Regions from separate parts of the Homo sapiens genome. Here region 2 is linked to region 1. The links come from fine-mapping of genetic effects on plasma protein levels. Region 1 holds a variant in brackets. A gene starts in the other region. All regions are shown on their forward strands.

What was found. PIP is the posterior inclusion probability: the model's chance that the variant is causal. The UK Biobank Pharma Proteomics Project read protein levels with antibody pairs (Olink). The fine-mapping took linkage between variants from a reference panel, not from the people measured, so its PIPs are less certain.
Region 2: it holds the start of SCGB3A2, and the variant in region 1 is fine-mapped to the plasma level of the SCGB3A2 protein (UK Biobank, PIP above 0.99).

The regions. Positions count from the first base shown.
Region 1 is chr1:117,573,143-117,576,056 of GRCh38, forward strand. No RefSeq gene overlaps it. Among named protein-coding and RNA genes, the nearest start is that of TENT5C-DT, 31 kb to the right of the region's middle. The variant G/A (reference allele first, on the strand shown) is at 1,415.
Region 2 is chr5:147,877,273-147,880,186 of GRCh38, forward strand. It overlaps SCGB3A2 (secretoglobin family 3A member 2), which reads left to right and starts at 1,439. Exons shown (of 3, transcript NM_054023.5): 1 at 1,439-1,586. The coding sequence starts at 1,532.

The DNA.
Region 1 (2,914 bases):
GGAAGTTGAGGCTACAGTAAGCCTTTTTCTTGCCACTGCACTCCAGCCTGGGTGACAGAGCGAGACCCGGACTCTAAACAAATAAATAAAGAGCTCAGCACCATTTTTTTCACTAGTCCACACTACACTATGAGAGCTGGGGCCCTACTGCTTCATTACCTGTGGTGTATCCAGGGTCTAACACTAATTGATGCATGGTTGGTAGGGGACAAATGTTAGATGAATGAATGGTGGCAGGTGCTGTAGGACTGTCAGACATTTGAATAAGGCATTCCATTTTCTGGAGTTAGGAAGGATGTCCCTGCGTGCGGCTTTGCCCCAGGCCCCAGCCAGCTGTGGGCCTGTGGGTCTGTGGAGGGGATGAGGCACTGCTTCCACCATCCAGGTCCAAGAAGCCAGGCTGCAAAACCCAGCAGGACAGCTTCCTTTCATCTGTGGGGTTTCCCTTCAGGGAGGGCGTGACTCACAGAGGCAAACTACTCCAGCTTCCCGTGGCCTTGAGTTCTGCTCAGTCTGGCTCTCAGAGGCCCAGCCTTACGGCCTCAGCCTGCCCTGATCCCAGACCTCGGTAGGATGCTAGGGCAGGGGTTGTCATGTCAGGGATTCCATCAGTTTCGTCGTTTTTAAACTTGAGTGTGCACGGGAATCCCCTGGAGGTCTTGGAAAAACACAGATGCCTGGGCCCCACCCCTGGATTTCTAATTCAGTAGGTCTGAGGTAGTACCCAGGAATCTGCATTTCCAACCAGTTCCTGGGTGATTCATCTTTTGAGAACTGTGTTAGGCCCACCTCTGCCAGGCATTATCAATTCCACGTAAAAGGGTGCTTAGGCCTGATGTCACCAGCAAGGGGTTCTGGGAGCCTCTGTAGGCTGGTGGCTGCTGTGTGGCTCAGCTTGGACCCTCAACACCTGCTGCCGCTGCAGCCACTGGTATCTGTCATGTCCCATGGACCCTTCCCTTCCACCGTTCCTCCCTGACCACCTCTGCTTCCTTAGCCCTCTGCTCGGGAGGGTGCTCACACCTGAACTGAGCTTGGGAGCTCCCTGCCCAGTAGAGAGAAAGAACCATTCACCCTCCTCTCCTCCCTCAGCCTTTGCTAGGACCCAGCTCCATCAGCCTTCGGGGCCCCTGTGGAGTTTCCTGTCATGGCCAGGCCCACCATGCCCCGCAGGATTGCCTCCCTCCTCACAGGCCTCCTATCACAGGGTGCTCCCTCGGCTGCCTCTTAAGCCCCATCCTCCTTCTCCTGCAGCTTTCCCGCCTGTCTGTCCTCCCTTCCCACACACACCCAACTCTCACCAGCCTGGGCCTTTGTCTTGCTGGGCCCTGTGTTTGGCCAAGGCAACTTATTTGGAACTTTCCTCCAACTTTGTGAAGGGGACAGTAAGTAAAGGGACCAGGACCCAAGGCTC[G/A]GGAATGTATTGGTCCTGCTGGGAAATGCTTGCTTCCTGTGGACCCAGCTGAAAAGTACATAGGAAGCAATTATTTAACAAAGGGAAAGGTAATAAAAGAGCTCAATAAATATTTGTTGAATAAGGGAACACAAAAGCTGCTTTACAGATGCACAGCCAAAAACACCTCTTTAAAAAAGCACTTTGATTCTGTGAGAGCCCTGCAGGTATGCATGCAAAGCCCTTGATCATTTGACCCCAAGTGGGGAAATGAGAATCCCCTACACAGGACATTTCTAGGTTGGAAATTTTTCTGGCACAATGATTGCTTGTGAGTTCTGTGGCAGCTAGTGCCCTAGGCTAATAGGTGCTAAACATCAAAAAGCATCCTAGAGATAATAAATTTGGGAAACACTGACATAAATAAATATAAACTAGTCCATGTACTGGGGGGACTTCTCTGAGCCTGCCGTAGGGAGGCCTCAGGCCATTCCCAGGTTCTTAGACCTTGAGAACCTGCCCCCAAGCCATCTGCCCAGGGGCTTGCATCTGCTCGCTAGGGCTGGGAACCTGGGGGAGGGTAAAGGTAAGGGGTAGGATGGGAATGAAGGCAGTTTTCCATTTTCTCACCTAGCTTCTGATTTGTGCCTAGGAAGGAAAAGATTTCCTTTTCTTCCAGGCTTCCACCAGCAAGGCCTTAGAGAGGCTTCCCCCTTCCCTAGACTCCCACAGAGATACTGGGGCCTTGGGGGTGACTGCCAAGAAACCTGAGTAGCCTGATACCCAGGTCAGAGGTCTCTCTGTACACACACACACACACACACAGAGATACACACACACACACACACTTGCAAGCACGTGAGCCTTGCAGCCACAGGCCACTGGAAATGGAGTCATGGTCACCCCACATGGGGACCCTTGATATAGAGGAAGACTCTAGCGGAAATATGGGCAGACAGCTGGACGAGAGTTTGGAAGAGCATTCCCAGTGCCCTCGATGTGCACTCTCCTCCTGTCTGGACACAGGGCAGGCTGTGTTCTGACAATCCAGGGATGTGAGGTCAGGAGCGCAGAGCAGGGTGGAAATCACCAATAAGAGAGTGAGCTGGAAGCTGGCATTCTGGGGAAGGTAGTGCCATCCCATCCTCCCCCTTCCCAGCTTCATGGCAGCCAGTAAGCTTTGCCCTCTTTGAGGACCTGCATCCCCCAGGGACCCGGTCAAGGCAGGGTGGGGGTGGGTGGAGCCCCTGTTGGGGAGAGCTGGGCTACGCCCAGGCCCTGCATGGGAGATTAACCACCAGGGAGGGCATCTGTGCCCAGCCTGGGAAGCTTGGGCTCCTGGTCCTGCCAGTTCAGGTTCCTCTTCTAGAGAAATGTTTTCTCTGGAGCTCTGGGAAAAGAAGTTTTCTGGGACACCTGTTGAGTGTTACACCCACCGTTCTGTGGTTAGAGGAGAGGGTGTGCAGAATCCCTCGTCACCCAGCTGGTCTGAGACAGCAAAGGTCAACACCAAGCCTCCTT
Region 2 (2,914 bases), not on the chromosome of region 1:
AGTGGGAATATGTGGGAGAAATGGAAGCAGTACTGGTAGAGAAAGAAGGAGAAGTGGCAGGATTGAGGTGCATGGCAGGCATTCATGGTGTCTTTCATGTAGTTTATAAAGTAGTTTATAAAGTAGCAGAAAGATAAAGAAATGACAGTTACAACATGGTAACATAAAAATTAGTAAAATGTGACATAAATTAGATATTAATTTTGGTTTGGCATAGCAGAATGCTCTGTCTGCATAATTTTATTAGATCTTCATTACAATACCACACCCTCAGATGAGGACAAATAAAGCCCCAACCTCTGGCCTTACATCTTAAGGTGTGTTTTCTCAAAATTTTCTGGGTTCCACTTTGGTGGTGGGAATGGCTGGAGCCAGCAGTACCACGTGGCCGGGGAGCCCTGAGCTGGTCCTGTGCCCATATGGACTCCGCTTTCTATTTCACCCCTTCATGGTTCTTTCTTACCCTCTTCCTTGCATGTCGGGCCCACTCGATGCCCCAAAGAACTCCAGGACTTCTGCTCACAAATGAAGTTGTCCTGAGGTCCTGTGGCTGAACCCTGGATCCAGAAAGACAGCCTTGGAAACAAATTACTACTCCTGTAGCCAGTACCTTACAATTACGTATTTTTGAATGATTTTATCGGATTTGATTGCCAAAGAATCTTGCAAAAACAATTTTTTCCCCAAGCTACACACCTTATGGTTGGTTGTGTTATTTATGTTCCCATTTTAGATGAGAGGACCAATATCCTAGATTAAAAATGTCAAATCCAAGATTACACAAACAGTGAAAATTGAATCCCAGGTTTTTCAAAAGACACTCTGATTTTAGATCTTAAGCCTATTATTCTATCCAAAGGCTCAGAGAAGACATGCTCTGAACATACTCAAAGTAACTGACACTGGAAAAGGTAACAGAGGTGTGAAAATCTTACCATAGTAGATGTGTGAGTGGGCTGGGGGCAGGTGAATTCCAGAGAAATGTGGCACTAAATGTCATGAAGCTGACTCTGTATTATACCAGAGTGGCCTCCAGATTGCTTTCACAACTGGGTAGTTCATCAGCTAATGTGATTCTCCAAACTTTAAATGATTAGAAAACTGGGGAAAAATGTAGAAAACCAGAGGAAAACACTCCTTCTAATCCAAATATAAATTCTTCACTTCTTTTCAATGTTCTTCCAGGAGAAGGATTCGTTGGGCTCTTTGCCTTCTGCTTTTATTTCTGTGCAAGGGTTTATGCAAGAGGTACTTGAGAATGCTGTACTGTAGAGCTTTGTTTCTCATGGGAACACACGGGGAAGTGGAAAACCCTCCAAATTGTTTGGTGAGAAAACATAACATTTATCCCTTTCTTTGGTGGGGTGAGTCAAGTGGTAGGGACTAGAATTCAGGTCCTCAATGGGCATATAAATATGTGTGTGCAAAAGCAGCCATCACACTTTGTATGGCAAGTGGAACCACTGGCTTGGTGGATTTTGCTAGATTTTTCTGATTTTTAAACTCCTGAAAAATATCCCAGATAACTGTCATGAAGCTGGTAACTATCTTCCTGCTGGTGACCATCAGCCTTTGTAGTTACTCTGGTAAGTAACTGGAATACATCTGGAATATGTGACATTTCTTTACTTTTCTGTTAATAAGAGCACAACTAGTAAGCCTTGCCTCACTGACAGTGGAATATGGTGGTAGGAATTGTATTTTTTTTTATTTTACTTTTAACTGACACATAATAATTGCACATATTTGCAGGGTTGGAAGAAGTTTTGGAATCACAGAAAATGGTGATGTTGGAAAGTATTTCAGATCCCCACCATCTAAGCTCTAGCCCAATATAAGTATTCTAATACATCCTACATAGGAAGTTAGCCAACTTCCACGGAGGGTCAACAAAGCACATTTCACTGCTGGATATTGGTCACCATTCGTTTTTCTTATTTTCCTCAATTTTGAGTTAAAATTTGACTTTATAATTTCTTTTGTGCTTTTGAACTATATGGAGTCATTCTTGCTATCATCTCCAGTTATCCAATTTGCTAGCTTGGTTCTCCTGAGATAGCTACATTCATCTGTTTATCCACTCAATGGATATTTATTGAATGGCTACAATTTGTTGGGCACTGGATAGGCATTGGAAGATTTAGACATGAAGCAGTCATAAATATTGTTCTTAAGGTGCTACTCTGGTAGGATAGATAGGGCTTCTGCCTAAGTTACTATAATTCTAGACTACTGTAAACGTACTGTGAGATATCCAGATAGAACTCTTTTAGTGTATTGGTGGGTGATTAGTTTAATTTTCAGGTAAGGGTATAGAAGCTGGCTTCTTGGAGGAGAATGGGAACTGATTTATTTTTTTGGAAGGAATCATTGTAACTATCAGGAAGACAGTGTGGGCACATGGGAAAAAGAGATTTCATGATAGCCACTGCTCATTGAGAGAACAGAAGGCTTTGAAGATCTTCTCCCAGGAAGCTGTAAACACATACAGAGAAGATATTTACCAAAATGTCTGAAATAAGAAGTATGGAGATTAATAATGAAAAATTGATTGCCGCCCACACCTACAATGGCAACTTTGGCTTTTGATGTTTATTGAATTTCTGAAGGAATTTGTAACTTCACCAGTTTTGGATATTTCACTGTTCTCTAATGTCCAGGGACAGGTATCTATGGGCAAAGTGGCAGCAGAAAGGAGGTGGGGAAAATAAATACCGCCCCCTCTGGGTGAGAATTTTGGAGGGACAATAGGTGATTGAAAATTTAAAAAAATATATACAGGCTCCATTTTAATAATTTGAATGGGGAAATAATAGGTTTCCAAAGGAAAATAAACTATGGCAGGTCTTAGCCAGTAGGAGGATGTGTGTTCTTACGTGTGTGCTCACATGCATGTGTGCATTTATATATCTGC